Regions from separate parts of the Homo sapiens genome. Here region 1 is linked to region 2. The links come from fine-mapping of genetic effects on gene expression. A gene starts in region 2. The other region holds a variant in brackets. All regions are shown on one strand. Distances are from middle to middle.

The links.
Region 1: its variant is fine-mapped to the expression of ATG4C in whole blood (TOPMed, PIP above 0.99).

The regions. Positions count from the first base shown.
Region 1 is chr1:62,829,168-62,841,508 of GRCh38, forward strand. ATG4C (autophagy related 4C cysteine peptidase) reads left to right here. Exons shown (of 11, transcript NM_032852.4): 7 at 1-9; 8 at 4,871-4,949; 9 at 5,609-5,685; 10 at 12,261-12,341. Among named protein-coding and RNA genes, the nearest start is that of ATG4C, 51 kb to the left of the region's middle. The variant TTG/T (reference allele first, on the strand shown) is at 4,891.
Region 2 is chr1:62,778,219-62,790,559 of GRCh38, forward strand. ATG4C (autophagy related 4C cysteine peptidase) reads left to right here and starts at 5,914. Exons shown (of 11, transcript NM_032852.4): 1 at 5,914-6,055. RefSeq lists enhancers at 5,615-5,664, 5,765-5,824, 5,945-6,124 and a silencer at 6,100-6,394.

The DNA.
Region 1 (12,341 bases), 51 kb after region 2:
TTTGTGAAGGTATGAAATAAGTGCTGAACTTTTTTAGGGCAATACTAGCTAATATGAAAAATATAGAAGGTTTGCAATTTTTTTCTGTTAAATGAGTAGTGATGATTTTGTAGTTGTACGTTGTACGTTGTAAAGTTTGACATTAGAGATTTTAAATTTTGGTATTATAAGACCAATGTGAGTTGAAGAGCACAGTGTTCTATAACAAAATGAAAAGCCTTTTAATCTTTGTAGCTAATCAGGGAGACACAGATGCAGCAATAATCATAACCTGTAATATAGTTACAGTTTCATTATTCTTATTTGTAATTTTAAGTATATATCTTTATTCATAAAACTAGCATTAAACTACATCACATTAATTATTGAAAAAACTCTCTATTACTGCTATGTTATCTCATAATATGTTTCCTGTGACACCATGATGTCAATAAGAGATGAGATTATTTCTATAGCTAGAAATAATGAAGATATGAAGATAGTATTTGGAGGAATTCCAACTTTGTTTTTTTCATCTTAACCAGTTAAAAATCGGTTCTTTCTTGGAGCACATTGTTTGGTTTCTTGCTTCAAAAGAACCTGTGTAGTTATGGTATCTTGTTTTGGGCACCAAGACATTCACATATGATAAAATACCTTGGAAATAGTTTCTGATTAAGGCAGAAGTTTTTAGTTTATTTTCATAGTTTCAATAAAATTCTTCATTTTTTAGTAGTCTCTTTTTGCAGCAATAGTTGGAATTCTTCTTTAAATGGAGTGTTATGGGATATAGTAATGTTGAAATAAAGTCTGAATCTATCTTTTATGATTAATAACTATTTGTTCCCTCCATGAGGCATCCCATGTTATAGTCTCTATATATTTAGTTGGAACATCTATTCTCAGGGTAGATTGTGCTAATTCTAGAAATCTAGAGCAGTTGTTTTTAACATATGATATACATGGAAGTTTTTTAGCTGGTATACTGGCTTTTCTTAATAGTTACTAAAATTTTGGAAGCACATTTGTTACTAAGAGTAACAATACTGTAATATATCAATGACATATTAATCTTCCAAATAAAGGTAAGGTTTTGATGTCTGACATGTATCTTTAGTAGGGTTATTGGTGCAGTATGAGAAGCTGTGAACCACTTCATCTAGAGAATCTGTTGAGGGTTTTGAGACTTCTGACATGTTGTCATCTCTAGGTGGGTTCTAATCAAATCTGAACTGGATTCTTTTTTGCCTTCTCTACTACCATGAGAAGATTAGAAACTGATGCAGTCTTGGAACTGATTCCTTTAGCCAAAGCTTCATTCCTGGTGGAATGGGTTGCAAATGGCTTCAGGCATGTTTCATCTGGCTGAGGACTTTGCTATTTGGTGGTATTGATAGTATTCATTAGATGGTCTCACTGCCTAATGCTCTTGAGTGATTCATGGTTAATAGCTTGACCATGGTTTGTAGTGAAATGTAGCATCCTGCTACATTGTATGAGGAGAAGGAAATTTGATGTGTGTTTTATTGGTCCTTACCACAGGAGGTTTATTTATTTATATTTTTTTAAGGACCTGGAATGAGGAAAATCCAGTATGTTCTTTTTCTTCAGCAAGACAAATTAGGACTTTTCTTTTTGTAGTGAAATGAACTATGGTTAAGCTGTTAAAGTGAAGCCTCAGTATCTAACATATAGGAGTTACTCAATACATATTTGTTAACCCTAATTTGTATAATACTTTTCAATGTAAATTTATCTCATTTTGCCCTCACAGTAGCTAGGAACTGGATTGTCTTTATGAAACAGAAAAGACATAGAGAAGTCAAGTGATATATCCAAATTCAGATAGCAAACTGGTAGCAGAGACTAGACTTTTCTTGACTGTAAGTTTGTTTTTCATGGTTTTCTCTAAAACATGAACTTTTTGAAAGGTAACATTTTCTCGAGCTTTTACTAACTTGATTTACACCGTAGTCCACTACAGTGGGAGAGCAGTGACTATTGAAACATTTTGATTTTCCAGTTAGGTAAAAATGGCTGAAATGGTTAAGTGGAGTAGGTTATATGATAGGTATTATGTTTGGCCAGAGGGGATGGTTGAGTCAAACCCCAATGAGAGCATGTAAAGAGGTATTCACTTAGAAGTGAAAAGGTAGTGTGTTCATTAGCCCTAAAAGAAAAATAATTTTTTCCTTTTTTTCATGTATGGTCAGCCGTTGTATTTTTTCCTGCCAAACCAATGTGCGTTGGTGAGTCTAAAATGTACTGTTCAGTTCTATTTTTCAAATTTATTAAACAAGGTATTTCAGAGATAGTGCCAACATAGCATCCTGCTACATTGTATGAGAAGAAGGAAATTTGTTGTGTGCTTTATTCGTCCTTACCACAGGAGGTTTATTTATGTATGTATGTATGTATTTTTAAGGACCTGGAATGAGGAAAATCCAATATGTTCTTTTTCTTCAGTGAGACAAATTAGGACTTTTTTTTTGACTGATTACTTCAGTCTTATTTATTGCTTCATGGATACAGCTCAATAAATTTTCACCACTAGAAAAATAACTGTAAAGAAGCTCTTTTAGGAACTGAAAAGTGTTTCAATCCAAAGATACAGCCTCTTACATGTAAAGGCATTCTAGCTCCTAATCTGCTTCTAAGCGTTTATTACTAAACTTGCTCTAATGCGTTGCAAGGGAAATACAGATGTCAAGAACCAAAGTCTTTCTTCCGTTACTTAGAACCATTCATTTTCTGAGGAGAGTCAGTGACAATCCTTGCTATATATTTTTTTCTTTCTTTTCTCAGTTGTAAGAGACATAGAACTTTCACTGCCTCACAGGTCTCTATGATATAAACATTGCATTTCAACTGATCAGACTGCCTCGAAGTAAGGCACTCTCTAATTGTATTAAGGATTTTTATTTAGGGGGAAAACAGTAGAATTCTTAATTGATAAGTAACTTTATTACTGTTTAGTGAGATTTTTGATACAATTTTGTCTTTATTTTTAGTTAGCTCTAAGATTTTAACCTGATATGCTTTCTCTGTTTAATTTTTTCAGTTGCAGCTCTCATTCAGTTTATCATTTCAGAAAAAACTTCATGATATTTTTACAATACTAAGAATATACAAGGTTGTTCTTTAGAGGGTGTCCGAGTCCATTTTTTGCTGCTGTAACAGAATACTGGAGACTGAGTAATTTATAGAGAACAGAAATTTATTCTCTCACAGTTCTGGAGGATGGGAAATCTAAGATCAAGGCACTGGCATCTGATGAAGGTCTCCTTGCTGCGCTCTCACATGGTGGAAGACAGAAGGGCCGAAAGAGGGCGAACTCTGTCCTCACGTGGCAGAGGAGCAGGAGAGAGAAACCATTCCTGCAAGTCCTTTTTATAGCAACATTGAGATTTTTGATACAATTTTATCTTTATTTTTAGTTAGCTCTAAGATTTTAACCTGATATTCATGCAAGCTCTGCCCTCATGACCTAAACACCTCCCCAAAGGCTCCAGCTTTCAACACTACATTGGGGATTAAGTTCCCACACATGAATTTTGGAGGGAATAAAAATGTTCAAACTATAGTGGAGGGTTACTTATAACAGTGAGAACTTGGAATGACTTAAATATTTATAGTGGAGGTTTTAAAGCACATTTTGTTGTCATAAAATAGAATATTTTTCAGCTACTACATATTATTAATATAGATCTCTATTTATTGATAGGAAAAGATATTCATGACATAATGAGCAACAAAAGGTTACAATGGCATGTGTTGTGAGATTTCACATATATAAAATTGTATTTGTAAATCTGTGTGTGTATGTATGTAATGTAGACAGATGTTAAGAAGGTGTTCCCCCAAATATTAATAATGATGAGCTCTGGGTGTTGGAATTTGGGAAAAGTTTCACTTTTTTCTGTATTTCCTGTATGTGTGTGTGTTCTGTATGGTTTGGTTACTTGTTAAAGGAAAAAGAACGTTTGTCCATATATTTATTTTTATATCTTAGAGATTTCAAAACATCCTCTCATTTAAGAGAAGGAAAGCTTAATTATTGTTTAATAGTTTTGGGATTTTATAACCTATACTTTATCATTATTAGTGTTTTATAGGATATATCAAAATTATTGCAGGAACTGTTGTTAAGACATTAATTGATTCCACTAGACATTTTAAACTTACTCAATTGGACATGTTTTTAAAAAGATATAGAGTTGATTTGGCCTAACTTAAATAGAGTTCTGCTTAGAATAGATTGCTGAGGGGTGTATTAAATAATTTATTGTGGTATTCCTGATATTTTATGATTAGTAAAATAAATTGGCTTTAAATGCAATAATTATTATTTTCATTGGATTAAGTTATTTTCATTACTCTTTATTTCAAATGAAGTAGCATAAAAAATTTGAGTGAATGCCATTGATTAGAAAATGGCTTTCAATTTGTGATTCTAAGACTCAAGGTTCAATGAAAACAGCAGTAAGGACTAAGAACTATCTTTAGCATTTCAAAAAGCCTGACGAAAATTTTACGTTGATCACAGTGAAGCTGCACCAGCTAACTGGAAGGCTAAGTGTATTGGCTTTGGCAGGAATTTTATTGCCTTACGGTGGTAAAATTGATTATCTCTCTATGTAGTAGTTGTTTAATGTTGTTGAGCAACACGCTGATCAAAATATTTGATTTGTCATGTTAATGTTGAGTGATTTAAAGAAAAGGAAGGCAGTTTGGAAGACAAGTGGATTTCAGAACCTGGGTGCAAATGTAATATAAATGATAACTGGTAGTGGTAAATTTGGGAGCTACTAATATTAGTAATAGAAATTTGTTTGCTTTGAATAATTACCACTTGCCTCTTGACTAAATCTGTATTAATTTTTTTTGGCAGGGTATTTTAAGCCTGGAATA[TTG/T]TGTGGGTATTATTGGTGGCAAACCTAAACAGTCATATTACTTTGCTGGATTTCAAGGTTAGTGATTTAGTAAAATATATTTCTTCATTGTTTTCTTTTAAAAGTCAGAAAGTTAATATGAGATCATCTGGAAACAGGATGATTAACAGAGCAAAACGAGTACCTTATACATTCATCAGTCCTACTATAGCCACTCATTTGTCATTTGGTCCACAACATAATTAGATTCTGTAAAATATATGTTTAATTTCTGTTACTGCATAAACAAGGCATAATTTATTGGTTGCGCTAAACTTCAGAAAACATCACTGCCACATTCTGGCAGTTGCTGTTTACATATTTACTTTTTACCAGTTTTAGTGGTGCAAGTAGATGATAAAATGACAAGCAATATGTTCTTCCTGTCAAGATAAAGAAGTGCAATACATTTTTCATATGCAAACTGTAGAATATAATTGTGTGTTTGTGAAAGCAATTTTATCACCAAAAATTAAATGACAGTCTCATCACTTTATAAAAATTCTGCTTATACAAGCATATTTGATTATGCAAAAGTTAATCTATCCTGTGCAAACCTATGTTTCAGTCAATGAATATCAGTCTGGCAAGCTGTTACTCCCAGATTTTTTTCAGCTGTTCTACATAGAAATTGGATTGTAAGCAGTGTAATAATAAGGTGTTTTTTGAATTACTTGTCTTCTGTTTTGTCCTTGTAGATGACAGTTTGATTTACATGGATCCTCATTACTGCCAATCTTTTGTAGATGTCAGCATAAAGGATTTCCCTCTTGAGGTACTGTGGATAAAAAGCTGATACTGTTTTCTTACCATATGAAGTAAACTAATTATTTAGAGATGTGCTAGGTAGCTATGCTTTTACGGTATTATAACTACTGGTTAATAATCAATATTTTACTGATCTATAGAACCATAATTAACACAGTGGTCAAAGGTTAAGTACTTTGTTGCTGAATTTTAATTTATGATATACTTTCTTCTTCATTTATCTTTGTCTCTAACTTGTTAGAAACCCTGGCCATACTAAAATAAATGATCAAGTCTCCAAGTAATTTTGTATAGAGACAGCTAAACAGTACTGAAGAATTTAAAATGTAAGGCCTGTTTAAAAAAAAAAAAAAAGAAAAATAGAAAGGGATAGACGGGTTAGAGTAACAAAGCGACTTAATGCGGTTATCTGCTAAATTATTTTGCTTTGAGTACAGTAATTAAATCTTAGCCTTTAGTTAGGAAGTTTTCAAGAGCTTAGTTGGGTTTCTAATTTTTTTTGAGCTTTTATTTCTTAACCTCTTCTTTTCCTTTATACAGGTCATTTTGTGATCCAGTATTTTAATTCAGAAAAATTTGAGAATACATAAATGAAACATGTAATTATTACATGGTTTTGATTGTTTTCCCAGTTGGTGCTTTTACAGACTAAAGTAATTTTACAGAATAAAATAACTTAAATCACTTGAGTGTCATGGATCACTAATTTTCAAGGACTTGATGAGTTGCAAATATAGCTGAATACTTTGTTTTAGTAATTGCTTGCTAGCTAATATTAACACCTAATAGTATTTAAGAGGTAGAATATGAAAATAGATAAACCACAAGGTTAAAATCTGGTTCAGAAAGATATATTATAAAACATTTTGGCATCCTTTGTAAACTATTACCTCAATTAAAGTATAAGCATCTGGAGGCCAGAGGTCAGGTCTATTTTGTTCTTTCATAGTATCTTGCACCTTAATAAATATTTGCTAGTTGACTGATTGGTACTGGGGAAGGCACTACAGAATAATTGTGCCATGTGAACTACATCGTAATTCTCTTTCTGCCTTGTGGTCTTGTAGCACTGATTCTTGTGTCCAAGTTACATTTCCAGTAGATCAGTGCCAAATTGACTCCTTATAAACAGTAGGTACTTGAGATTTAGATGGAAAATTGTTCTTAGTATTTTAGTATTACCTAAATAAGCAAATTAAAAGATTATTGGTCTGATTATTTTGGCCAGTAGAGAGAAATTATCCATCTGATATTTTGAGAGACTGCAAAGATACCAAGTGAATGAATATCCTGGCTATGTGTATACAATCAAAATTAGAAAGGCTTCAACTCATTATTGGGAGACTGTTGCAACACTCCAAGAGGGAGTTATTAATAATAAAGGTTTGAAGTAGGCTGGTGATAGTGAAAATGGAAAGGAATAATTGATTTTAAGATTTTACTGTGTAAGGTAAAATTTGTTAAAATTGACTTCTTAAATGCACAGAAACATTTCTTATATAGTGGGACACTTATAGAATGGGTTTATAGATGTTATATTTTTAAGATCCTGGTAGAATATCTTAATCTGTGTGGAAAATTCCTGTTAAAAATTTTTATTTTTCTGCAGTGAAGGGATTTATTTTAGTTATAGCATCACTTGTTTTCCTATGAAAGTATAATATAAAAATTATATCAAGTTGTAGAGGAATAAAATTTCACTTTTTGCTTTTTATCATCTTTTAAGTTTATAATACACCAATTGAAGGTGTTTTAACTACCCTGTATTACTAACCATCCTTGCTTTGCTATACTGCTTGTATATTTATAGCTAGTGAAATTATGTAGTTGATTAATGTAAAAAATTATATGCATATTCTAAAACCACCCTTATACTTCAATTATTAAAATCATTTTTATAGGGAACTTTTTGGGTCAGTATTTTTTTGGTTAATAGATGGAGAAATTGAAACCTTAAATCATCCACTGATTCCACATAAATAATTGGTGGTAGTCCTCTGATATTTTGAGTGCCCTAAATCTAATAGATTGTGAAATTTTAAGGAAGTGGGATGATATGAGAATATTTGAGATTAAAGAAGAGATTTAAACAGATTGCATTTTTTGTTGTTCTTACAGTGTTGAATTTCTACATTTCTAGAATTGAACTCTTAACATTTTGAAACCAAATCAGAGTAACTCATTTCTTTCTTTTTTAATGAGCTCTTTCTAGGTGCAAGGGACTTTCCTAAGCCCTTGAGTCCTCTGTTGAACTCTTTTCTTCTCTGTGATTCCAAGTGTTTTGATTATATACATTTCTATTAATGTTTAATTCTTGTGACATTTTCTTCTGAAATAAATTAGTATATCCTATTGAATTTCTATACTAACTTTTAAGAGACTCTTCCTCATTTTTAGCTATCTTCAGTGAGTTTTTAACACATTGTGAAGTGAACATCAGCAGTTATATTTGGATCCTAAGTCTAGTAGTGAAGATATGCCAGGGATATCTTTGGTTAGGACTGAGGAATGGAGCACATGGTTCAGTGTGAGGGCACATTATAATGTAGAAACTCACACTGTAATTTTCAAACAGAAAATGAGGTTCAGAGGAGCAGCATGAACAACCTTAAACAAAAGTCATCAAAGAACAACTTGAAATTAGAAGGGAGTGAGAAGAGACCTCAAATGGGCTTTGGCAGTGAGGGTATGTAAGAAAAGCTTTATTAATAGACATGTCAGTTTGTTCTGATTGCTGGGTCCCCAATTCCAAATGTCAAATTTTAGGAGGTTCATACAGTGGTAACTGTTTTAATCTACCTTAGGAAATTCAGAAATATTGGCAGTAAAACTATTAGAATTACGTGATGTGGGCATCTAGATTGGATGAGTGAATTCTTCAGTGAAAGATAATACCCTTTATGAATTACACATGTGAACTGCAATTAGTAGTAGGTTTTTTTTATGTTGTCTTTTGGGTGGAGGATAGGGTCTTGCTCTGTTACCACTCCAGTTGGAGCGTAGTGTGTAATCTCAGCCCACTGTAGCCTTGACCTCCTGGGCTTTAGCGATCTCTCCACCTTAGCCACTCAAGTAGTTGGGATCACAGGTGGGTGCCACCATACCCGGTTAATTATCAGTAGGTACTTTTTACTAAGGGTATTTTCTAATTAACTGTCTTAGGAAGCTTCATCTGAATCACCAAAATAGCATAGCTGTACCTATAAGCATATGTTTCAGTATGGTTTTGGTATGTTTAGGTAATTAGACTTCACTATTCTAAACAATAAGCCTAGAATAGTGCCTGTCATTTTGTAGGTGCCTAATAACTATTAGGGCAATTGGTAAACAATGTATCAAAAAATGAAATAAATGGGAATTGATTCTCTCTGGCCAGTATTTCCAGAAACACTGTTACAGAAGTGTATCTAGTGAATACTCCTTAAAGTGCGTTTGTCAAGTAGATGCTACTCCTCTTACCAATCATTAGAATTTTAAAAATTAAAAAAAATCTTAAGTGCATAGCTCAAAAATTATCACGAAGTGAACATAGCCCTGAATTAGGAAAATATTTGAAAGTTTAACTTGTTCTGCAATAGACAACGATTGTGAATTGTAAATTCATGTTGGTTGGCCTTTGAATCTTCTTGGATGAACAAAATGATATGAATGGCCAGGCATGATGGCTCCCGCCTGTAATCCCTCCACTTTGGGAGGCCAAGGCAGGTGGATCACCTGAGGTCAGGAGTTTGAGACCAGCCTGGCCAACATGGTGAAACCCCGTCTCTACTAAAAATACAAAAAAATTAGCTGGGCGTGGTGGTGCGCACCTGTAATCCCAGCTACTCGAGAGGCTGAGGCAGAGGAATTGCTTGAACCTGGGAGGCAGAGGTTGCAGTGAGCAGAGATCGCACCACTGCACTCCAGCCTGGGCGACAAGAGTGAAACTTCATCTCAAAAAAAAAAAAAAAAGTTTAAATGATATAAAATGCCTCTCTGTTGTATGAGTCCTAGTGCTCATGCCGCAATACCCAATATCAGTTTAAGTGATCAGAGATTTATATCTGTGTTTTTGTGAATATTTTAAAAGTTCTTTGTAGATATTAAAACAACCATGAATAACAATTTAGTGTTTGTTATTATCTATGATGGTTGTAGTCAGTACAGTGAGATAGTAATAAGACTATTCTGGTTTAGTATTATTGGTTCTTACATGAAAAGCCTTTTAAAATTAAAAAATTTTTATTTTCTAGAGATGGAGTTTTGTTCTGTCACCCAGGCTGGAGTGCAGTGGCACCACCATAGCTCACTGGCACCTCAAACTCCTGGGCTTACGCAATTCTCCCACCTAAGCCTCCTAAGTAGCTGGGACTATAGGTGAATGCCACCACACCTGGCTATTTAAAATTTTTTTTTAGAGGTGGGGTCTTGCCATGATGCACAAGCTGGTTTCAAACCTCAGCCCTCAAGCAATCCTCCCACCTCAGCCTTCTGAATTTCTGGGCACAGGCATGAGCCTGACTCAAGTTCTTACATGAAAACTTTTACCAGTGCTTTAGTATAATATAGAATACCCTTTGTAGATGAGTTCAAAAATATATTATTAGACCATGTACAAGCTTTTGGCCCTCCTTCTTATCCCCAACTGGTAAAAAAGTTAAGAAACATTCCTTGTGATTGTCTTTCGAATGAGCTGGGCAAATGGTTATTTGTAGATACCATGTATGTAGAATAATTTCTTATAAATATGACTTAGAACTGTGCCATATACCCTAATATACTCATATTCCTGTAAATTGTTAACTAACCAGTTTGTTTAGCTTTTCTGTGCTTTTCTAGTTCTGTTTTAAATATTTCTTTGCTAATGTAACAGGTAGATCAATGTTAGAAAAAGTCCAACTAAGATTATACTTGTATTGACTAGTGCCATGGAGGTTCCAGTTTAGCTAGGTTGAATCTCAGTATATAAAGTAAGTTAGCTAAGCATTTTGCAGAAGTCATAGTTTTGAAAACTCATATTTTGCCCTATATTGAGTGACATATTGTTGGATTTGAATCTAATATGCAGTTGAACTTTTCATTGGAAAAAAAAGCAGCTTGAATGTATATATTTTGCATATCTTTTGGTGATGATACGGGATACAAATTGGGTCACTAGGATGTACAGGGAGAGAAAGAGTGATTTTAATTGATTTCACCATGAACATAACAAATATGACAACTTATTTTTTCCACACTTTAATAGATAGCATGAAGTTAAAAATCCCTTAGTTTTAGGCATTGAATGTAGGGAAACTATAATTTTATGAGCTCAAATCCAGCTCCCCTCCCCTCCCCTCCCATTAATGGAGTTGGAGTCTTGCCCTCTTGCCCAGGCTGAAGTGTAGTGGCACGATCATATCTTACTGCAGCTTCAAAACTTCTGGGCTCAAGCAGTCCTCCTGCCTCAGGCTCCTGAATAGCTGGGATTGTACATGGGAGCCACAGCACCCAGCTCCTAGATTATTTCTTAATTGAGCTTGTTCTTTAATTCAAAAATTTCCCACACTTATCTCCCATCTGCCCAGTTCTCTCCCTTTACCACAGACTTGTTAATTTTTGTATATCCTTAGTTTATTTATATAAATATGAATATACAGTCTTATGTTCTTTTTAACACAAACTTATTTTTTCTACATACAGAAAAAGACTTGGTCACTTCAGTGATTTTTAAGGACAGGCTAAGCATTTAAGCATTAAAAAAATTTTTAAACATAGTACTAAGGTGTGATTGTGAGGAACAAAAAGATTGCAGTGATTACTTTTATATTCTGCCCTTTTTCTACTTTTGTATTCCCTAAAGATGCCAAACTCTACTAACAGCCAAATCCATTAGCAAGACAGTAGAGAAACTAGGGCAGCCTCCCCAGCCCATTTATATCTGTGGCACTGTGTCTATTGGAGAAAAGTGAACTAAAGAGACAAAAGGACTGATGAGAAAGAGGGCAGGGACCATAATGGAATGGTTTCACCTGTTCCAGCCTGTTCCCTGAGAAGAAACAAGAATTAAAGCACACTCAAAGAGAAAGTTGAAGAATACGCAGTTATGTACTAATTGTGTGAATTGCTAAAACCCTCAAGTTGACCTCTTTTTATGTCAATATAGAACATTTACCTGAGTCTGTGTATTTGTTTAAAAAGTCTCGATATCCTTGTTAAAAGGTTTATAAACATTAACCCAAAATCTCCAACAAAACAGACTTAACTGCATTTTAATAGAAATGGCTAACTTGATTCTAAGCCTCATACTTTTTTCATGTCTTTTTCATGTTTTCAAGTGTTAGAAATGCATACCACTTTTGACACACTTCCTTTCTTTTGCAGAATGGCACTAATATCACAAAAGGTTGAAATTTGGTGAATTAAATATATAAAAATGTTGGCTCTTATATTTTACAGTTTTGCAGAGTGGAGAGGACCATCTGCGTAGGATGAACTAAAACACCATTTGAAAATCATGTTTATAGTGATGGGAAAAAGCTAGATAGAAAATTTTAAATAATAGTTTTATATATACTTGTCTATCAAAGATAAATTAATCCTAAAGAACTTTAAAAATTACAGACATTCCACTGCCCTTCTCCCAAAAAGATGTCTTTTCGAAAAATGGATCCCAGCTGTACAATAGGATTTTACTGTCGAAAT
Region 2 (12,341 bases):
TCCCCAAGGGAGGCCATAGAACCTAGAATTCCTCTTCCCCAAGGCAGGTCATAGGAACTAGAACGCCTTTCCCCCAAAGTCTGCCATAAAATCTAGAAATACTACTCTAACCTTCCCCCACCTTTCAGTGTAAGAGCTGGCCTGAAAGGAATTCTCTGACCTACCTCGACTGAAAGTAAATCATAAGACCCACATTCCAGAAGGAGTCCTGACCTGTACCCAGGAGGGAAGAATGTCACACAAAGAGGGCAGGAAGAATCTGAACAGTCAGGCTCTACTGGGTTTCCCCACTCAATTACTATTAGATAATTTCCTTTTTGTCTAATTGCATTTCTCCATGGCTGTCCACTCTTCATCAAATCTAAGCATAAAAAGGGGCAGTTTTCCCTGGGTTTTTGGGTCTTCATTTCAGAAGGGTCCCGTGTCACATAAAACTTTGATTAAATAAATTTGTAATGCTTTTCTTTTGTTAACCTGTCTTTTGTTACAGGAGTGTTGGCCATGACTCTTATGGCAGGGAGGAAAGATATAATACCTTTCCGCCCCTAGAGTACTTTATTTCAGATCTCTCATTGTAAAAAACTGAATTATGAAAACAATCTCCTAATTGGTCTTGCCAGCCCAATCCATTCTTCATACAGCAAATAGTAGACTAAAATGCAATCTAGTTATGTCACTCCTAAATGGTTCTCTTTATATTTAGGTTAAAGTATACAGTCTTAGTATCATAGTATACAGTCTTTTTTTTTTTTTTTTTTTTTTTTTTTTTTGAGACGGAGTCTCCCTCTGTCACCCAGGCTGGAGTGCAGTGGTGCAATCTTGGCTTACTGCAGCCTCCTCCTCCCAGGTTCAAGCAATTCTCCTGCCTCAGCCTCCTGAGTAGCTGGGATTACCAAGCGCCCACCAGCACACCTGGCTAATTTTTGTATTTTTAGCAGAGATGGGGTTTCACCATGTTGGCCAGGCTGGTCTCGAACTCCTGACCTCAGGTGATCCACCCACCTTGGCCTCCCAAAGTGCTGGGATTACGGGCGTGAGCCACCACGCCTGGTCTACAAAGTCTTTTTGTGAAATAGCTCCAGTTTGTCTTTCCAGCCTTATATCATACTATTCACCCCACTCTCTTGTTCCAGCTATAATGAATTTACAGGTTGTCTTAAACTGGCTGAACCTCCCTCTTCTACAGCTAGTTAATTCTTATTTTTGTCATTTAAATCATCTTGGGAACTTCCTCCTCTAGGGTCCTCACTCAATTTGAGAGTAACTGACCTTCTTCATTCTCTTAAAGTCTTGTCCTTACTTTTAGCATAACATTTATCACATTGTATTGAGGGACCATAAGCTCCTTACTGAATTCTGTCTATATTTCCAGCATAGGTGTGGGTGTTCAGTAAATACTAGCTGCTGTGAAGAGATCCCATGCTGCATGTCAAGGCTAAGGTTTACTTTGTAGCACTTGATGAAGTGTGGTTATGAAAGGAAAAAGAGAAGATAGAATAGACCAGACCGAGTGCAGTGGCTCACGCCTGTAATCCCAGCACTTTGGGAGGCTGAGGTGGGAGGATCTCTTGAGCCCAGCAGTTTGAGACCAGCCTGGCCAATGTGGGGAAACCCCATCTCTACAAAAAAATTCAAAAAGTTAGCCGGATTTGGTGGCATGTACCTGTAGTCCCAGCTACTCAGGAGGCTGAGGTGGGAGAATCACCTGAGCCTGGAAAGTCGAGGCTGCAGTGAGCTGTGATCGTACCACTGCACTCTAGCCTGGGCATTGGGAGTGACTGCATTTAGCAGGAAAGCTGAGTCCACTGAAGGTGCTTTCACAATTATGGTGATTCTGTGCACATTTGTTTGTTGAAGTAAAGGGAGCATAGTTGAGAGAGAGAGAAAGAGGTTGAAGATATAAGAGAGGGGATAGAAATAAGATTACTTGGAAAAGAGGAAAGGTTTTCACCAAGTTTTCTTTTTTCTAATTTTTTTTGTTTGAGATGGAGTCTCACTCTGTCACCCAGGCTGGAGTGCAGTGGCGCGATCTCGGCTCACTGCAAGCTCCGCCTCCCGGGTTCTTTAAAATAATTTTTTAGCCTTTAGAAGTCTACAAGGTATTCATTCCATCCAGGCTGAGTTCAATGTCGCTTAACATAACATTCCCAATGAATCATTCATGGTATACATTTATTTAATAGAATCTTCATCTTTTCCTGGTCCAGGAAGGAGATGGATAAGAAATACACTTGATAGAAGTTAAGAAGTAAAAGTGTCCTAACAAAAATCTGGAGCTGCCTCACAATCAATGCTATTAGAATGGTTGGTATACTTTCAAAGTATATGCCTGGAATACGATGACATTTTAGAAAGGGCTTGACTCTTAAGATAAATGTTACCTATATATTATAAATGTGTTTTTTATATATAAGTACACACACACACACACGTATACACAAGTACGCACACACATATACTAAGCAGTGTGTGTGTGTGTGTGTGTATGTAAATTGTTGCTTTCATGATTATTGAATGTGACATTCTGATTATTCTGGTTTTAATAGTTATTTTATTATACAACCTGAATTACTAATTAAAAAAATAAAGCACAAGAGTTAGAAACAGCTTACATTAAAACTACGCAGTATTCATGAAAAGGCAGTTTCGGGGCCTCGGTCATCACTGTGAATTTTTTTTTTTTTTGAGACAGAGTCATGCTCTGTCGCCCAGGCTGGAGTGCAGTGGTGTAATCTTGGATCACTGCAACCTCTGCCTCCCGGGTTCAAGCAATTCCCCTGCCTCAGTCTCCCGAGTAGCTGGGACTACAGGCGCACGCCACCACGCCTGGCTAATTTTTCTTGTATTTTTAGTAGAGACGGAGTTTCACCATGTTGTCCAGGCTGGTCTTGAACTCCTGATCTCAAGTGATCCACCCGCCTTGGACTCCCAAAGTACTGAGGTTACAGGCATGAGCTACTGCACCCAGCCTAGTCATCACTGTGAACTTCCACAAACACTCATTGAGAGCCAGTTACTCTGCACAAAGTACTGTGCATAGAGCTGGGAGGGGCACAGATGTTTAAGATGCGGATCCTGCCTTTAAGAAGGTATATTAGCTATTATAAGTTTCAATTAACCAAATGTGTGATGATTATTAAAAGTCAGTGTTACACATATTTACTTTGTTTTCTATTCTGATAAAGCTCATGTATGCTTTTAATTTCCCTTTAAATCTTAACTAATTTCCAAAACTATCAGTGTTTCATAAACAGCTTATAGTGCCCAGACAGAGAGCCTTGCCCTTAGTAGCACTCATCCTATTTTTGTTGAACTAAAACGAACAGCTTCTTCAGTTTTAACTCTTGCATGGTTGGCAATTGGCTGAATTGGAATGTGAAGACACATTTAGAGGAGAGAATGTTCTGTCTGAGTGCTGCAGCTGTAAGAATCTCTTCAAAAAACATAAAGTCTATTACATAAATTATGTACTCTTTAAACTCCCATGTTCATTTACACAATTGATCATGGAAACGACTTTAGAAATATGTGTATCAAATATTTAGCATATTTTTAAAGCTTCCTTAATAACATCACTAATAAGTGGATGCAATTTTGTGTTTATTTACGGCAAACACCTATGAATATCAGATAACCTAATTATAGTTTATCAACATTACCTTTGAATCATTCCAATGGAAATGTCCTCTCTCACTGCATTCATATTGTTTTGGTGCATGAGCATGGAAAACAGCAGATTATTTTCCATGATCATAGATTTTAAATATTTACTTGCTAGCGCTGCATAATTTAACGCACTAGAGTTGGAAAGCAGTTTGTATGACAGCTGATGCCATGTCAGTGTTGCAGAATATAGTTTCCTCCTGTGATTTCTGTGTGAAGTTGTAAAAAGGAAAGGTACTCTACTCCTTTTTTTCTAACCAATTAAAATTTGTTGTGGCAAATCTACAGAAAACCCAAGTCTGTAGTATACACACAATTTACTTTTGTATATATAGTTATTTTAAGAATCCAAGCATTGTTTCTCATGGCCTGTTAATGCACAATACCAAAAATAAAATACATGCATTCTTGTAATCCAGGTCTTTATGAAAGTTACAAAAAGGCATCTAAACAGCTTGTTAGATGCATGCTCTCTCTCCTAAAAAAAATCAAAACAGAGTTTGGGGATTTCGAAACAGGAAACCACAAGCTATGGAATCATGCAAGAAAACTACTTTGCTCACTCTAATAAGTGTGCCATTTGTGATCTTATCATATCCTTTGTTTGTTGTTTTGTTATTTAGCTGTCCAAGTACATGAATAAAAAATAAATAGATCCAGCTACCTGTTTCTGTGAGAATAAAAAAAAATTTAAACCACCAAATCCACTAAAAAATTGAAAAAATTTCAAGTTTAATTTTGAACTTTTCAACTCTTCATTCTTGAAGGTTTTCATTCCCATGTGGTTTCATAGTCCGGTGGCATAGACTTCATATTTTATTTTTAGTTTTTAGTATAATTTCCTATGTAATTCAGAAGCATGTCTGGTAGTCCTTGCTCCAACAAAATCTGCGGTACTGTAAAACGGCATAGGATTACATTTTACAGTAACAGTATTTCTCTTGACATCATTTAGGAGTGAAGATAAAAATTTCCACTTATTTATTTATTTATTTATTTATTTTTACTTTTTTGAGACAGGGTCTTGCTCTGTCGCCCAGGCTGGAGTGCAGAGGCACAATCTTGGCTCACTGAAAACTCCGCCTCCCGAGTTCAAGCGATTCTCCCGCCTCAGCCTCCTGAGTAGTTGGGACTACAGGCGCGCGCCACCGCACCCGGCTAATTTTTTATATTTTTAGTAGAGACGGGATTTCACCATGTTGGCCAGGCTGGTCTGGAACTCCTGGGCTCAAGTGATCCGCCCGCCTCGGCCTCCCAAAATGCTGGGATTACAGGCGTCAGCCGCCGCGCCTGGCCAAAAATTTCCACGTTATAAAAAGCATCTTCGGACCGTCCTTTTTTCTTTCTTTCTTTTTCTTTTCCTTCTTTTTTTTTTTTTTTTCCCCACAAAGCCTCGCTCTGTCGCCCAGGCTGGAGTGCAGTGGCGCGATCTCTGCTCACTGCAACCTTTGCCTCCCGGGTTCAAGCAATTCTCCTGCCTCAGGCTCCCGAGTAGCTGGAATTACAGGCGCCCGCCGCCACGCCCGGCTAATTTTTTAATTTTTTAACAGAGACGGGCTTTCACCATGTTGGCCAGGTTGGTCTCGAACTCCCAACCTCAAGCGATCCACCCGCCTCGGCCTCCCAAAGTGCTGGGATTACAGACGCGAACCACCGCGCCCGACTGTCCTGTGTTTTAATGCTTGAAAATAATCTGAATATGGAAAATGAGTGCACATATCCCTTGATGTTTTATAAATAACCTACAGTCCTAATAATGGCTTGGCTTAGAGTTCCTTCACAACAGGAAAAGAAGGCATCCTGGCTTTTTTTTTTTTTTTTTTTTTAAATCAAAGTGAGGCTTGGGTTGGCTCTATCTTGGTCCTGAGTGCGAGGAAGGAGGGCCGCAATGCATGCTGGATCTTGCAGTTCCTACGCCAGAGGCAAGGGCGTGATGCTGCATGGCCTGCTGGTAGTTGAAGTCCAAGTGCTCGAGAGGAATTTATGGCAGCCGTAATGTGGTTTGTCTATCAGAGAGACAATGCTCACAGACGGATACTTTCTCTTGGTTCTGCGCTTGCTGCATTGGTGGATTAGCGGCTTGGGGTGGCGAACAGGTGGGAAAAAGGGATGGATAAAGTAAGCATAGCAGAGGCCTTTACGCCGCTGCTATCGCTACTGCCAATCGCAAGGCTTTCGTATCCCGGAAGTGGCTGATCTGTTGGATTTGACGCGGAGGCGGTTCCTCTTACTACGGTGGCCGGGGTGCTCAAAGTACCTGTAGCTGCGGCGCTGAGGTCGGAACGTCTGCGTGTGTGCGGGCTGGTTTTGTGGCGGCTGCTGCTAGAGCTGGAGCATTTGCCGGGTTGGTGGCTCCTGCACATTTTTACAGTTCTCCAGTCCTTCTCTTTCGGTGAGGGATCGGCTTGAGGCTAAAGGAGTCAAGAAGTTTGGGACTTAGCGTCTCTGGTCCCCGAATGACTGGGTTTCTTGCGGGGGTCCGCCTTCAGTGAAGACCCTGTGGCCAACCATCTGGGTTCTCTGAGGGTTTTGGCGCCTTCCTTGTCTCTCCTTTCTAGTGTCATTTGTCTTCTAACTCTTCCTCGCTTTGTCCTGGGTTGCAGAGATAAACCGTAAGCCTAACTGTGGGCAGCTGTTCCTCCTTTCCTTGTGGTTTTCTTAGATGTTGCAGGCAAGACTCTTTCCCCTGATCTATCGCATCCATTTGACCCCTCCTCATGCCAGTGCTCTGTCGGCCCTGTTTTTCCTCGTTTAAAAAATAAAAAAAGGGAAATAATAATAATAACTGGATCCCCACTGTCTCTCTGTTCTCATTCCTAGCCTCTTTCTCCCTTTTTGGTGTTTGTTACTGCTTCAAGCCATAACACACTGCCTTGCATATATTAATGCCTTTCCATCTAAATATTAACGTTCATTCACTTCATTTGGTTCCCGCTCACCGTGAACTCTCCCAACCCTACCCACATCTAAGGGCTTTTGAGGTTGGAGGTGTAGAATAAATTCTTACATATGATGACTATATTCATATATGAGAACCTTCAGCGGTCAACTCAGCATCACTGCTTATTGAGTTTATATTTCTTGTGATTTCTTTGGCTTACCTTTTCGTTTTGTATTGGTTATTTACCCACATGGGGCTCACTGCTACCCTATAGTTACAGAAGAATACCTCGTCTTACATCTTTTTATATCCGAATTACTTAGGAGTTTTCTTATGTTTTCCTGCTCGGACCATATGTCCCCGGTGGGTTTTTGGCAATGATTTTGTGTCAGTTGATGGCAGAAAGAGACAAGGGAATGATCTTCTTGCTTGCTTGTGACTTGTAATTAGATTATGAGCCATTGAGAATACCCAGAGGGAGTGGAAAGGCTTTGAAAGGTAAAGTCTATGTATTTTCTGAGTTTCAAATTGATAAAGCTTCTTCTTTGAACAGGAAGAGTTTCTATTTAGTCCAATAATCTGAGGCTATATTGAATTACCAGTTCATTCGCTATAAAATTTTTAGAACCACATGTCAAAAAGTGGCCCATCTAAAGAATTGTATAATTTAGCAAAAAGTCATTAAAAGCCATTTAATTAATGCTCTTTTTCTTTAAAATAGGATTCAAGTATTTGGAAAAATGTATTTATGGTGATTGGTTATGAAGTATTTCTAGATGTTTTGATGGTTCTGGTGAACAGCATCGTATTCTGTTCACTAATGTTTTATAAAAAGGCAGAAATTTTCTGGCTTTCTGGGGAACCACGTAACTCAAATGAGTTTGCAGCTCGTTTTCTATTCCAATTATTGCACTAAAGAGGTTCTTATACTAAGATTATCATTCTTTTTTAAGCTATCAAGTATGATCTATACATGTCAGTAAAATATAAATATTAATACTGGTACAATGTTAAATTGGGATTATTCCTAATTAATGCACAAAATGCTGAAATGGTTTCAGCCATGCTTAAGATTTGGGGCGAAATATATTTCAGAATAAATTTACTCATATAATTTTTTATTGAAAAAAATGATACGGTAGCCATTACTCAATCTTTTAATATTTTTCCTGAGATTTTATTCATTTAGTAGGAATTTAGTGACTACTTACTATTTAACTATTGTCACAAAATCACCAAAACATTTGTTTGTAAGAGTATCCTCTTGTCCTCAGCTCTGCATAGATACTTTTAAAGCATTAGCGCAGTTATTCCAACTAAGCTATTGAGTATTATTTACATTTAACAGATGAAAAAACTGAAGCTTGAAGAATTTAAGGAAATTAATTCAGTTCTTTTCGACTCTTCCCACTGTACAACAGCTGCAAGGATCTGTGCTCTATCCTGAAATATATAAAGAGCGTTAAATCAACATATGCTTACTGAGCAGCTATTCATACCAGACACTCTTCAAGGTGCTGGGGATATAGAGTGAACAAGAAAAGTCCCTGCTCTTAGGGAGCTTATACTCTAGCAGAATGTATGAGATGTAAACTTTCCCTTCAAGAAGCAGAAAATATAGTCAATATGTATTAGATTTTACGGGAGTGTTTTAGAATGTTAAAGGTGAGAAGAGAGATAACTAGGGAATGTTTCATGAAGATGAGATCTAATGTGGAATTTAAATAGTGGTTAGGGATTGGTAGGTAGAAATTAGGACCCTGTCTCAAAAAAAAAAAAAACAAGTGAAAATCTGTGATATAGAATAATTGGTGAGCCTTATAAAGCACTTTATTTTTATTTTTTGGACTATATATAAGTAAAATTGTAATATTTGACATGCATTCAATCATTTAGCATTTATTTATTAACTAGACACTCTTCTAGGCCACAGTGGTATAGTAGTGAGTAAATACGGTGTTTACCCTCATAGAATTTACTAACAGAGGAGGCAGACATAAATCAAATAGTCAAAGAAATTTAAAGTTACAACTGTGGTAAATGCTATTAAAAAAGGACTTGATGTTACACAGAGGAAGAACTGATTACAGAGGGGATAAGAGTGGGGATGGGGAGAGGCCAGTTAGAAGATTGTTGGAGTGGCCCAATTGAGAGATGGTATTTTGGACAAGGTGGTGGTGGTAAGATGGATTCCAGAGGTGTTCAGGAGGTGGAACTAGGCGATGGATTAGATATGGAAGGTGAGGGAGAGGAAGATATCATGGGCTAATCTTAGGTTTTTGGCTTATATAACTGGAAGGATTGTTGCACCCTTCACCGAGGTAGAGAACATCGAAAGAGGACCAGGTTTGGGAAACATGCTTTGTTTATTAGTATTTTTTGTTGTGGTAGCAGTGTTTAAGGTTAATTTCTTAGTTATTTTTACCCTTTTGTGTCATTGTTGTAGTTTTGTATATTTGAGTAATACTATGCCTAAAATAGGTTTTTTTGGTATCATTTTTTCTTGATTGAGCAGGGGTGGGGTTCTACATGAAAGCATCTGGAAATATGTTGGTCTCTGTTTTGAATCTATCTGTAATATATTAAACCATGTATATGAATAGGTAACTGAATAATGCAGTTACATGCCATCTTTATTTTCACTTGAGATTTGGTAGTAAACTGGCATCTGGTTAAATTCTAACTTCATTCATTTGGTACATACATAAATATACATGCATTAGGGAAAAATACATACTTGTGATTTTTCTCTGAAATGCTTCATTCATGTAATTTTTGATAGATATTGAACCCAAACAGTAGTGATTTATAGTTTATTGTTTAAATTTTACATTTCTTAGTAAAGTGGTAGAGTGTATAGAGCAAAGAGACTTTGGTGTCAGACTGCCTGGATTCATGGTCTCTATTTGCTGTATACTAGCAGTATGACCTTGAAGAAGTTATACAGCTTTTCCAAGCCTTTTTTTTTTTAAATTTATAAGATGAGGATAATAATAGTGCCAGCCTTATAGAATTGTTGTGAGAATTAAATGAAATGATATATATACATAGGTTAATAAAATACTTGGTACAGATTTTAAGTGTTTATTATCATTATTATAATAGTGATACTGGGTTCAAGATCATCTTGACTCCTGTGACACCATTTTAATTTTAGGATACCTTGTAACTAATAAAACTCAATTTGAGAAAAAAAATTTATTTGGTATTTAGATTTGGAGAAAATATATAAAATAGTTTTGCTTATTCACTATTGTCCCAGATACACCAGCACATAACATCTTTCACAGAGTTCTGAGATTATGTGTAGTTTACAGCTGTGATAGAAAACTTATGGTGATTAGTTTGTGATTACTTATTGTTTGTTAGGATTATTACCTTTATTTTTAGCCAAACCTTTTCGAAGTTTGAACTTGCTTTTAGCTCTTATTGAATAGGGTGAAGAGTAGTTAGGCTTTATGAAGTCTGATCAGCTGCTCTAAAATCAACCTAACTTCTACTTTTTCCCTTATTTTTTTCTTTTTACTTTCAAACCTGTAAAAACATTGAAATGGTAGTATGACAAATACCTGTACATCCTTTTACCTAGATTCACTAGTTGTTAACATAGTGCCTCTTTTGCTCTCATTCCTTGCTGTTAGACAAGTGCTGTTTCTCTCTCTATAAATACACACACACACACACACACACACACACACCTTTTTTTCTTGCTGAACTATTTGAAAGTAAGGTGGCAACGTGACACTTTACCCCCAAATAATTCATCATGCATCTCCTAAGAACTAGCACATTCTCTTATATAACTATAATGCCATTAGCATATCCAAATAATTTAACCTTGATATGATAATATTGTCTAATATGCAGTCCATATTCAACAATTAGATTTTTCCAAATATCCCAGTAATGTCATTATACCATTACAAAAATACCGAATCCAATTAAAGACATTAATTGTATTTAGTACTTATATGTCTATTTTATCTAGAACAGTCTTTATCATTTCTTTCTTTTTTTGTCTTCAGGTAGAATGCCTCACAAAATTGATTTATCTGATTTTTTCCTCACAATGAGTTTCAGATTGAAGAGTTGTGGGTTTTTCTTTTTTTTTCTTTTTTCTTTTTTTTACTATTACATGGGTGATGTTTTGAACTTTCCATTTAATCATATTAGGATTAACATGATCGTTTATTCCATTATTGGTGATTAAGTTTGATCACTTAGTTTAGCCAGATTTTTATATTCCGAAAGTATGTTTTCCCTTTTGTATTTAGTAATCTGTAGGGGTGATAAATTGAGGTCATGTGGATATTCTGTTTTGCAGGTTTTGTTTTCCTATCCAGTGATTTTAGTAGCCATTGATAAAAGCATTGGTGGTTGCCAAATAGTGATTTCCCACTTCTGTCATTCCTACATGTATTTGCTGGCTCTCTTCTCTAAATAAGAGCTTTCTCTTTTTTATTTTAGTATCACTATGTACCCAAGTATCCTTTTTTTCAAAATCTATGCAGTGCGTTATAATTTGCTACCATCATTCCTTTTGGTGATGAAATTATCTCAAATCTGGTCAGTAGTAGATCCTTCAAGCTGGTTCCCATGAACTTTGGATATGTCCACATTGGTGTTTGAGCACTTTCTTACTCCTATTTGCACAATAAGATGTTCCAGCCTCACCTTGTAAATTTCCTGCTCAATACATGGAATCAGCCATTTTACCACAGAGTCCTGGTTTATTTTAGTGGAAAATGATTCTTAGAAACCAAGATCTGGGCCGGGCGTGGTGGCTCATGCCTGTAATCCCAGCACTTTGGGAGGCCGAGGCGGGTGGATCATGAGGTCAGGAGATCGGGACCATCCTGGCTAACACGGTGAAACCCCATCTCTACTAAAAAATAAAAAAACAAATGAGCCGGGCGTGGTGGCGGGCGCCTGTAGTCCCAGTTACTAGGGAGGCTGAGGCAGGAGAATGGCGTAAACCCGGGAGGCGGAGCTTGGAGTGATCCGAGTTCGCGCCACTGCACTCCAGCCTGGGCGACAGAGCGAGACTCCGTCTCAAAAAAAAAGAAATAAAAGAAATGAAGATCTGGGTATTGAATATGCTCTTTGCTACTGGGGTGTCATTGGTTCTAGACCCTTTAAATGGACACACATATACACTTTTTTTTTTTTTGAGACAGTGTCTTGCTCTTGTTGCCCAGGCTGGAGTGCAATGGCGGATCTTGGCTCACCGCAACCTCTGCCTCCTGGGTTCAAGCGATTCTCCTGCCTCAGCCTCCCGAGTAGCTGGGATCACAGATATGTGCCACCACACCCAGCTAGTTTTGTATTTTTAGTAGAGACAGAGTTTCTCCATGTTTGTCAGGCTGGTCTCGAACTCCGGACCTCCGGTAATCCACCCGCCTCGGCCTCCCAAAGTGCTGGGATTACAGGCGTGAGCCACTGTACCCGGCCAACATATACATTTTTTAAGAAATCATGAGTTCATAGGATACCTTCAATTCAAATTCAACACTGCAGAGTTCTCATCACTTCCTTCCAATTCCTGTTTATATCTCTGTTTTCCCAAAGAGAGAATTCTGATTCTCAATTATATCACTATTTTTACTCATCTAACCTATCCTACAACACACATAAAATAGTTTTGGAATTACTAGACTGACTGATACCGCTTCCAGCAACAGATTTACCAAGTAAAGATTTCTTTGCCATTTTATGTTCTTAGAATATATCCCACTAAAGGTATATATAGTCAAAATAGGTGTTCAAAGTTATTTGAATTATTTTTTCTGTGTGATTA